Homo sapiens: one gene and its partner. The protein of the gene in region 1 interacts with the protein of each later gene in a pairwise test. Each region holds a gene or a part of one and is shown in the gene's direction. Other genes may lie near its edges.

Evidence for each region.
Region 2: the proteins of RBM25 (region 1) and SRRM4 interact in binary tests that used the Homo sapiens proteins (3 or more experiments, as listed by UniProt).

What each region holds. Positions count from the first base shown.
Region 1 is NC_000014.9:73,117,506-73,124,406, forward strand, and holds the end of RBM25 (RNA-binding protein 25), read left to right. Parts: intron 1-2,207; coding exon 2,208-2,300; 3' UTR 2,301-6,394; downstream 6,395-6,901. UniProt on the Homo sapiens protein: RNA-binding protein that acts as a regulator of alternative pre-mRNA splicing. Involved in apoptotic cell death through the regulation of the apoptotic factor BCL2L1 isoform expression.
Region 2 is NC_000012.12:119,159,541-119,163,586, forward strand, and holds the end of SRRM4 (serine/arginine repetitive matrix protein 4), read left to right. Parts: 3' UTR 1-3,511; downstream 3,512-4,046. UniProt on the Homo sapiens protein: Splicing factor specifically required for neural cell differentiation.

The sequences.
Region 1 (6,901 bases):
CAGGCGTGAGCCACTGTGCCCAGTCTCTTCCCAGGTATTTATTAAGCACTTGTTATATACCAGTCAGTTGTCAGAGCACTTAACTACATACCAACTCTTTTAATTCCCACTTAGTACCTACTGCTATGGTGTGTAGCTACATCGCCTCCACTTTAGAGGTGAGGGAACTGAGGCTCAGGTTAAGTAACCCAACCAAGGACCTATCGCTAGTAAGAGGCAGCAGTGCAATTTGAACCTATGTAGCCTGACTAGAGAATTTGAACCAATGTAGTCTGACTAGAGATTGAGTACTCTAAATTCCTACCCCAAACTTCCTCTATGAAGACCTGGCAACACTAGACCACATTTCTGGAGCACAGTCATAGCTGCCCCCTTCAGAAGGGAGCAGAGTAGGCCATTTCACCTCATAGCAGCCATAATGTAGAGGGGCAGATGTGTGTATGGGATGATGGCAGGAATAGTGATGGGGACACAAGGACCCTATAACTCATAAGTAGAGAGGAAGACAATTTCCTCATCCACCACTGGAAGAAGACTTGTTACTCAGTAGTCATGTGTGCCCCGTGATGATTGTATTTGCTTATTGTGTTTACTGTATTCTGGACACTGTACTAAATACTTATATTCTCATTTAATGTTCACTTTAGTGTCACATACACAATAAATGCTAGTTAAGATGGTACGGTTGGGCTGTGCACAGCAGCTCAAACCTGTAATCCCAGCACTTTGGAAGGCCAAGGTGCGCAGATTGCTTGAGCCCAGGAGTTTGAGACCAGCCTGGGCAACATAGTGAGACCCTGTCTCTACTAAAAAGCACAAAAATGTAGCCAGGAGTAGTGGTGCACACCTGTAGTCCTAGCTACTGGTGAGGCTGATGTGGGAGTATCACTTGAGCCTGGGAGGTCAAGGCTGTAGTGCACCATGATCATGCCACTGTACTCCAGGCTGGGTGACAAGAGAGATCCTGTCTCCAGAAAAAAAAAAAAAAAGTTTGTGAGGTTGTGTTTTTGGAGATAAATGAAATTCTGTATTGTTATTATGTAATTGTATATTATTTAGTTCTTCTTAAATTACTGTGTTCTTTATGAAAAGCGTATGGTTTCCTTGGGAAGTAGTTTTGTCAGACATGTATAATTGCAGTATCTGTAAAGGTAAAATAAAAGAATAAAAGGTGGATCACAAAAATATGGTACTCTTTGTGTTTAGTAAGCCATGGAATTTTGAATGATTTTTTTTTGTTGTCGTTGTTAATTTACATTTACTATTTATTTATTTATTTAGAGACGGAGTTTTGCTCTTGTTGACCAGGCTGGAGTGCAGTGGCATGATCTTGGCTCACTGCAACCTCCGCCTCCCAGGTTCAAGCGATTCTCCTACCTCAGCCTCCCGAGTAGCTGGGATTACAGGTGCCGGCCACCATGCCCAGCTAATTTTTGTATTTTTAGTAGAGATGGGGTTTCGTCATGTTGGCCAGGCTGGTCTTGAACTCTTGACCTCTGGTGATCCACCTGCCTCAGCCTCCCAAAGTGCTGGGATTATAGGTGTGAGCCACTGTGCCCGGTCCATTTACTATTTATTAATAATACATTTCTCACACTGGACAAATTTTCTTTAAGTCATTTTACTGAAAGCAAAACTACTTCCTAAGGAAAACAAATACGTATTATAAAGAACGTAGTAATTTAAGAAGAACTAAATATACAACTATGTAATAACAATACAGAATCTCATGTATCCCCTCAAAACAACCTTAAAACTTTTTTGTTTTTTTTGTTTTTCTTTTTTGAGATGGAGTCTTGCTCTGTTGCTCAGGCTGGAGTGCAGTGGCGCGATCTTGGCAAGCTCCGCCTCCTGGGTTCACGTCATTCTCCTGCCTCAGCCTCCCCAGCAGCTGGGAATACAGGCGCACGCTGCCATGCCCAGCTAGTTTTTTGTATTTTTAGTAGAGATGGGGTTTCACCATGTTAGTCAGGATGGTCTTGATCTCCTGACCTTGTGATCCGCTCGCTTCGGCCTCCCAAAATGCTGGGATTACAGGCGTGAGCCACCACACCCGGCCACTAAAACAACCTTAAAATCTTAACTAGCATTTAAGTAATAAGTGCTTATTGTCAGTGGATGAAAAACTTTTTTATACTGGCCACTGTTTTTGGCAGATGTTGATGATTGCTTCTCTTACATGTGTTGCTGTTTTGTTTCCTCTTTAGGTACTTGATGAAGAAGCAGAAGTTTTTATAGTCAAAATGTGGAGATTATTGATATATGAAACAGAAGCCAAGAAAATTGGTCTTGTGAAGTAAAACTTTTTATATTTAGAGTTCCATTTCAGATTTCTTCTTTGCCACCCTTTTAAGGACTTTGAATTTTTCTTTGTCTTTGAAGACATTGTGAGATCTGTAATTTTTTTTTTTTGTAGAAAATGTGAATTTTTTGGTCCTCTAATTTGTTGTTGCCCTGTGTACTCCCTTGGTTGTAAAGTCATCTGAATCCTTGGTTCTCTTTATACTCACCAGGTACAAATTACTGGTATGTTTTATAAGCCGCAGCTACTGTACACAGCCTATCTGATATAATCTTGTTCTGCTGATTTGTTTCTTGTAAATATTAAAACGACTCCCCAATTATTTTGCAGAATTGCACTTAATATTGAAATGTACTGTATAGGAACCAACATGAACAATTTTAATTGAAAACACCAGTCATAAACTATTACCACCCCCACTCTCTTTTGATCAGAAATGGCAAGCCCTTGTGAAGGCATGGAGTTTAAAATTGGAATGCAAAAATTAGCAGACAATCCATTCCTACTGTATTTCTGTATGAATGTGTTTGTGAATGTATGTGTAAAAGTCTTTCTTTTCCCTAATTTGCTTTGGTGGGGTCCTTAAAACATTTCCCAACTAAAGAATAGAATTGTAAAGGAAAAGTGGTACTGTTCCAACCTGAAATGTCTGTTATAATTAGGTTATTAGTTTCCCAGAGCATGGTGTTCTCGTGTCGTGAGCAATGTGGTTTGCTAACTGGATGGGGTTTTCTTATTAATAAGATGGCTGCTTCAGCTTCTCTTTTAAAGGAATGTGGATCATAGTGATTTTTCCTTTTAATTTTATTGCTCAGAAATGAGGCATATCCTAAAAATCCTGGAGAGCTGTATTTAATGCATTTTTGCACTAATTGGTCCTTAGTTTAATTCTATTGTATCTGTTTATTTAACAAAAAATTCATCATACCAAAAAGTGTAAGTGAAAACCCCCTTTAAAACAAAACAAAAAAATGAAATAAAATTAGGCAAATTGACAGACAGTGAGAGTTTTACAAACATGATAGGTATTCTGCTCGGCAATTTGTAAGTTTACATGTTATTTAAGGATAAAGGTAAATCATTCAAGGCAGTTACCAACCACTAACTATTTGTTTTCATTTTTGTCTTGTAGAAGGTTTATATCTTGTTTTACCTTGGCTCATTAGTGTTTAAAAATGTACTGATGATGTGCTTAGAGAAATTCCTGGGGCTTTCTTCGTTGTAGATCAGAATTTCACCAGGGAGTAAAATTACCTGAAAACGTAAGAAGTTTTAAACAGCTTTTCACACAAATTAGATGCAACTGTTCCCATGTCTGAGTACTTATTTAAAAGAAAGGTAAAGATTGGCCTGTTAGAAAAAGCATAATGTGAGCTTTGGATTACTGGATTTTTTTTTTTTTTAAACACACCTGGAGAGGACATTTGAAAACACTGTTCTTACCCTCGAACCCTGATGTGGTTCCATTATGTAAATATTTCAAATATTAAAAATGTATATATTTGATCCTGGGGACTCATATTCTTTCAGAATCATGTAAATAAATGGCATCATGTTGTAATTGTGTGGTGCATACTAGAAAAGTTAAAAATATGGGCTGAACTTTTTATGGACTTGATTTTTATGACTATTGGTATCTAAAGGTCAAGGAAGCCATTTACATTATTTTGGATGAATCTACTATACATCTATGGAAATGTCTCTTTTATTTTAAATTCTGGTTTCTCAACGGAAAATTTCAGAAAAGATGCCCCTTGCCATTTTCGTTAATTTTTCAGTCTTTTCTTAGACACACCCCCAGCCTAAGACCTTGTTCGAGGAGTTTATTGTGTCTGTCTTTTCTTAACATACTGCACTGTTCTTAAGCATCATATTGTGTTGTTTTTATTTAGCCACTATTAACATGAAGGTTTATTCAGGTAGATTTGATTTCCTTTGCTTCGTTTCTTCTCCTGCTCTGTCAACTGTACTTATCTTAAAGGGCCACTCTAAAAACAAGGGAGATGTCGTAATCTGAAACCTTTGGGGAGATGTACTCTGTACTGCATAACATCTCCAGTGAGGTTTGTGACAGGACCTCAACTAAATATATGAATTTGTGCAAGTTCATATATTAAAGTTTCTGCAGCAGAGTGAAAATTGTTACAGTAAATGTGGTAGAAACTGTTAATCGCTTAATGCCAGTTTAAATCATGTTTTGTAACCAAGCTTCAGTAAAAGGCTTTAGATTGTCAGAGTTGGTTGATTTTTAGAATTGTATATATAAAGAATTAGACATTAAACAGGCATATTCTAGTGTCTGAAAATACACATAAGAAATTTCTATTAAGTTGCTTGAACTTTGTGGGTTAATTTTACCATAATCTCATAAATTAATTTTAGTTTGAAAACCTTATACAGTATGAATTCATTTTGCCATTTCAAGTTGTTATATAAAGAGCATGAAAGTCTTTTTTTGTTGTTTTTTTGGGGTTTTTTTTTTTTTGAGAGGAAGTTGTGCTTTTGTCGCCCAGGATGGAGTGCAATGGCGCGAGCTCAGCTCACTTCAACTTCCGCCTCCCGGGTTCTGGAGATATTCTGCTTCAGTTTTCTGAGTAGCTGGGATTACAGGTGCCCACCACGACACCTGGCTAATTTTTTGTATTTTTAGTAGAGACAGGATTTCACCTTGTTGGCCAGGCTGGTCTCAAACTCCTGACCTCAGGTGATCCACCCGCCTCAGCCTCCCAAAGTGCTGGTATTACAGGCGTGAGCCACCTTGCCTGGCCAAAGCGTGAACATCTTAAGAACCAGTCTTGATCTGGCAAAAAAGTAGTAGAATACTACTTTTCTTTATTTGTCCCTAAAAATAAAGTATGTACATCTGTTCACAAGGAAGAAAGGTAAGTTTGAAGTTGTTTTTCTTAAACTTTAATGTGACCCCAAATCATCTGAGGAGTGCTTGTAGAAATAGAGACACTGAAGTAGCAGCGCTGGGGTGGCGCCGCAGGCTTTGCATTTCTGGACAGCTCCCAGCTAATGTCATTGCCAACTGATCCAAGACTACATTTTGATTAGCACTTTAAGGTGTCTATTCAGTATTATTTTATCCTAACAGACTACATAAATGCAGCTGAATTTTCCTTTAAGTAGATTTTAAAGAGAAAAACATTTTTTGAGGCAAATACACGTAACTCATGAACGTAATGTAATCTTGCAAAATTATGTCTGAGAAAGCCCTAATATTCTAGGCTTTTTTTCCATCCAGCCCTGAAAATTTTTTCTGTAGATAACTTTATGTTGTAACTTATTCTGAATCTTATTATGGCATTTCCCTGTAAACTATGTAAGTGTAAGCTAATGATTATTTTGTGAAGCGTGCTGTTTCAGGTATTAATCTGCCATGAATACTAGATATAGTAGAAAAACTGAGAAAACATTTAGCTTGAGAGCCAATTTGAACTAGACACTATCTTTTTTTCTCCTTTTTAATGGAATAAATTTAATGCAAATAAGTGTAAGCAGGTATACAATGTTTAGATGAGGCTTATTTTCCCAACTCTTTTTAACAGGTTTTATGATATCCCCAATTTATACCCAAAAGACTGCTGAGAGGTTTTATGTCAAATTGATTACAAACTTCTCTGGGTTGTATTTCAGTCTTCTGTTAAGTATGAAATTGAGAAATAGTTTTGCTCAACAAAAGATGATGAGGGATTGATTTGTGAATGTCACTGGAGATAAAAGGGTATGAGAAGGAATCCCAAGCAGGCAAAGAAACAGTCTAGCTGTCAAGAAGAAAACAGGGAGATACATACCAAACCCAGGAGCTACTAATATAACAATCATACTATAGAGCGAAGTGAACTTACACTTTTTGATAAACTGATAGATTTTTTGTAATGTGATTATGGTAAAATACTGAAATATTTATGTTAATTTATTTGCATTTGAATGCTTACATTTTTAATTGACAGAATCTTTGCATTTCATTACTTGAGTCATGAAGGCGAAATTAAAGAATGGCAGTCTAAAATACCCAGGTAAAGAAGATAATTTCTAGAAACAAAAATAAAAATTCTTTTCAAGCCATGTTGTTTGAATTAAATGACACTCCTGAGTCTGTCTACTTTTTTTTTTTTTTTTGAGACAGCATCTTGAACCCAGGAGGTGGAGGTTGCAGAGAGCCGAGATTGCGCCACTGCACTCCAGCGTGAGCAACAAGAGCAAAACTCCATCTCAAAAAAATACATGTATTTCTGTTAGCTGATCATCTAATGGTGGCAAAAAAAATTACACGAGTTCAGGAACATCATTAGACATAAATACAAAATACTATGTGAATTATCAAATGTGATAAGCTGAGAGGAAATGGGAAATAGGAAGATTCTCAGTAGAAGTAGTAATATGTGGAAGGGGCTTTAGAGGTCACCTAGTCTGTTTTGCCCATTGTAATTATGTCAGTAGTCCCTGCAGGTGGTTTATCTAGAGGAGTATATATGGGGTTCTAATTCATGGTCTAGCATTGCACTATTAAATAACCACTAATGACAAGTAGTTTTACATGCATTCACGTGAAATCTTTCTGTTTGTTTGTTTGAGATAGGGTCTGCCTCTGTC
Region 2 (4,046 bases), on another chromosome or scaffold:
CTGGAATTGCACTTGGGGTTGACAAGGTGCTCACACCATGAGAATGGAGGCAGGAATTGAGCTGACTGAGGGAAGATGCACCTTGATCTCACCCTCACTCCAAGGCACATAGCAGGATCACTCCCTAGCTTCTCTGAGCACACCTAGTTGGTTTCATGTATGTTACACATGCTTCCACTCCACAGTACCTAATTTCTCTCTGTCCCCTGAGATCTGAAGGCTACCTTGGGAAGAGGCATCAGCCATCTTGCTTGAGAACCACCAAGCCAAAAGCAAAAGCTTTTATCTATGATCTCTTGCTGTTTCATCAGGGGAAAGCACAAAGCTATTTCTGAAATTAGGAAAAAAAAAAAAAAGGTGGAAGGAGCAGCCAGATGTTCCACAGGACCCCACCAAGAAGGTCATTTCCAAACCCATCCTGGAAGGGCCCAGGATCCAAAGGTCATCAGTCCTGCTTATCTGACCAACTGGCAGTGTCTTCTGGCTGCTGGCCGGAGACAGCTCTTGCCCTTTCCAAAGTCACTGTCCACTGCCTTGCAATTGCCAGCTTGTCTGGTCCAGCTTTGGGTTTGGTGAGACTTTTGCAACATCCCTGGTTGTTTCCCTGGCAATGTGACTATCCAGCCCTAACCCAAAGCAAGGGAGTGCCCCTTTCCTGGGTGAAGTTTACAAGAAGGCTGCTTAAATGCCTGCTTCGGGGAAATCTCTGCCTCTCTCTCTCTCTGTCTCTCTCTCTGTCTCTCTCTCTGTCTCTCTCTCTCTCTCTCTCTCTCTCTCTCTCTCAGTGTATTTCTCTACTTTCTTTTACATTTCCTTTTTTTCTATCCAAAAACAATGTGCTTGTTGAGGCACTGGTAACCCTGATTAACCAGAACCTCCCATTCCCAGTATCGCTGTTCCTACGCCCATTTCACCCTCATTACCTTCTGCTTCCAAGGAATATGACAGATCACCAGGATGCTGCTCGTCGTGAGGATTTATCTCAAAAACCAACATCCAAAATGGGAGGGAGATGTGGCTTGAGGTCAAGCGCCATGCATCCCAAGCCTTTGACCTTCCCGCTATGGAAGTGCACTGGATGACAGAAACTGAATACATTGCTCCCTTTCCCTAGGGCAAAGTTCGACCTCTGTTAAGTGGAGGGATTTGTGAGATAAAAATTCAAAATGTTGGCCTGAGGCCTGAGAGTGTCACCAAAGACAGAGGGAGCTTCACTGAGACTCAGAGGGAAAAGGAAAAGAGCCTCAAACATTTTTAGGAGGTTGTCCATCATGAAAGTAAAAACGAAAAGCAAGATTTGATCTCCCTTCAGTTAATTAGGCAAGGCTAAGTAACTCAAAGCCCCCTATTAGTAACATTCTGGTTCACTGAGGTTTGATCATATTCCTATCTGCATTCCTTCCCTTCTTTGAAGGACAGCTGATCTTTCAGAAGCAGAATAAAATTAAGATGTTAGAACAAAGGTCTCAGTCTCAGAGAACCGCATCACTTCATTTGCTCAGACCCATCCTCTTTTGCAAAAGGGTCTGCTTGGAGAGGCCAAAATTCAGGGTGCTCTCAAAGGCAAAGAAAGCACATTGTTTTCCTTCTCCAGTCCAACTTTCATCTTTTCTTCTGCTGTTTTCTTTTCCCCTCTTCTTTTTCACAAATGTTCAAAATGGTCTCATGCGCATGTGTCTTGCCCCACTTTCCCCTTTAGCTGAACAGAAAATTTTGTCTCAGTAAAACGAAGTCAAAAAACAGGATTCCTCCAAACATGCCTCCTCCCGCACTGGCCAGCCGAGTCCAGCTGAGAAACTTATGCTAGATTCAATGTCATTGAGCAATGCTTTATTGAAGTCTCGTTCTTCTCACTTCTGCACCAGTGAGCCAATGATACTGACAGAAATGTCATCTCTCTTCTATCTGTGGTTGCTGTTTTTGGAGTAAAAGTTTCTGTGTGTGTTTTTTTAGTTCTTTTGATGGCTGTTGTTTTGCATTGTAAATACCATGATGGGGGACCCCCATCAGAACATGGCTTATTTAATAATTTATTTCGTATTTATTGAGTAATATTGGGAAAAGAGAAGGACCACCTCTTTCCCTGAATTGCTATTGAGAATTGGTCCATCTCCCAGCTCCAGGTGCTGCTGTCTGCAGCAAGGGCATTACTGCCCAGGTAAGGAGTGCTAGAATCACCAAGCAAATTGAAATTGGCAGAAATGGAGGCTTCAGTCACACAAATTAGACTCAAATGGAACTAAAACACTGGTTATCTCCAGGAAAACCTCATTTAGATGGAAATTAATGGAAGAATAAAATGCCTACACATGAACCAACTTCTATTAAAAAGTCACAACTCCTTGAAAAAAAAAATAAAGAAAAATTGTAAACTCTTTTTTTTTTCTGGCCAAGGAAAGCTATGCCTCATCTTCTAACGAGCCAAGCCAAAAAGACTGCAATGGTATTCCTATGTGTTTCTTTGGCCTGTGTATCAGTCTGAATGAAATGGAATGGGTCTCTAGCCTCAGTCTTGTCATCTGTAAAATGGGGCTTGTCCTATATATTATCTGCAAGACGTGGGAAATGGGGGCTCAAGCCCTGATGCTATGGACTCCATACTGTTGGATATATTGTCTCTTGTGTCTTCTGCTGACTGCAGATTAAAGGGTGTCAACCAAGGAAGGAAACAAAAAAGTAGGGCCTGGACTTCATTTGCAGAATGAGGTCATAGTCGTTGAGTCCCACAGTCATATATGGGAGACCTCAAGTTGCTGTCACCTTGATAACTCTTGTATCCTGGGTTAAAGCCCTCTGTATTTAGTTTGAACTTCTCTCTAAGCCCCGTGGTCCAAAGTCATCACGGGAGAGACCAAGATGGGCTTACCTTGCCCTGCTCTGGATTTAACCATTGTTCATTGTCAGGCTATATTTTTGTACAATCATTCAAATAACCCAGTGACATAGGTCATATTGCCACTTTTCAGAGGAGAAAACTGAGGCTCAGGAGGGGGAGTTGACATGCCCAAGCTCCCTTGAGCTCAGATCAGCTTGACTCAATGTCCAACATTCCCTTGGTAGCTTTTTCTCCGGGGTCCTGTGCTATAAGAACTTCTCTCTGCACTGTATTTTTTTTTCTCCCAATTCTTAGCTATTTCCTCAAGCAATGATTGGCCAAGGACCTAGCATAATCCACCACATTGGCCAAGGGGACGTGGTGCACCCCAAGGCCATTTCTCTGCATTGGAGGCTGCGAATCTCCTCTGGAAAATTCCCAACCCGAGGACCCACCATGAGCCCAGCTCAGCCTGACCAGACAGCCTCTGCCTGGAGCATTCACATCAGATGGAAAGAAGCTGCTGTGTCCTCCAGCATCCTGGGACCCTGTCCTCTGCCCAGTGACACAGCAGCCATGGCTAGCTTGATTTCTGGTCTCCAAAGCTAAGCATAACCTTCCCGGGGTTTCTGGTTTTTCAGCCTGTACGAAACATGTCTCTGTTCTAATTAAAGTTCCCATGGTATGGTGTTCTCATATATGGCTCAGTGTTCTCTGTTTATATGGGGTACTCAGAATTAAAAAATGGGGAGGGAAACAAGGAGCTAGAGAAGACTTAAGTAGCACCTGCTGCGTGTCATACATGTTCACACTACTCAGCTCACATCTTTAATCTTCCAAACAAACCTGTATGTATTTTGGGTTTTTGGTTATATATACAGCATATATACCAAATATATACATGTTATATATATATATATATATATGTGTGTGTGTGTGTGTGTGTGTGTGTGTTAGTAGCAGCTATGGAGTGCCTTAGGCAACCTTTTTGGAAGCATTTTATATGTGTTATCTTAGTATTCAGCAACAACCAACCCTATGAAGTAGGTATTAGGAACTTCTTCTTACAAATAAGGAAACTGAGTCTTAGAAAAGTAAAGTCACCCAGGCACAGTGGCTCACGCCTGTAATCCCAGCACTTTGGGAGGCTGAGGTGGGCAGATTACCTGAGGTCAGGAGTTTGAGACCAGCCTGGCCAATGTGGTGAAACCCCATCTAAACCCCTACTAAA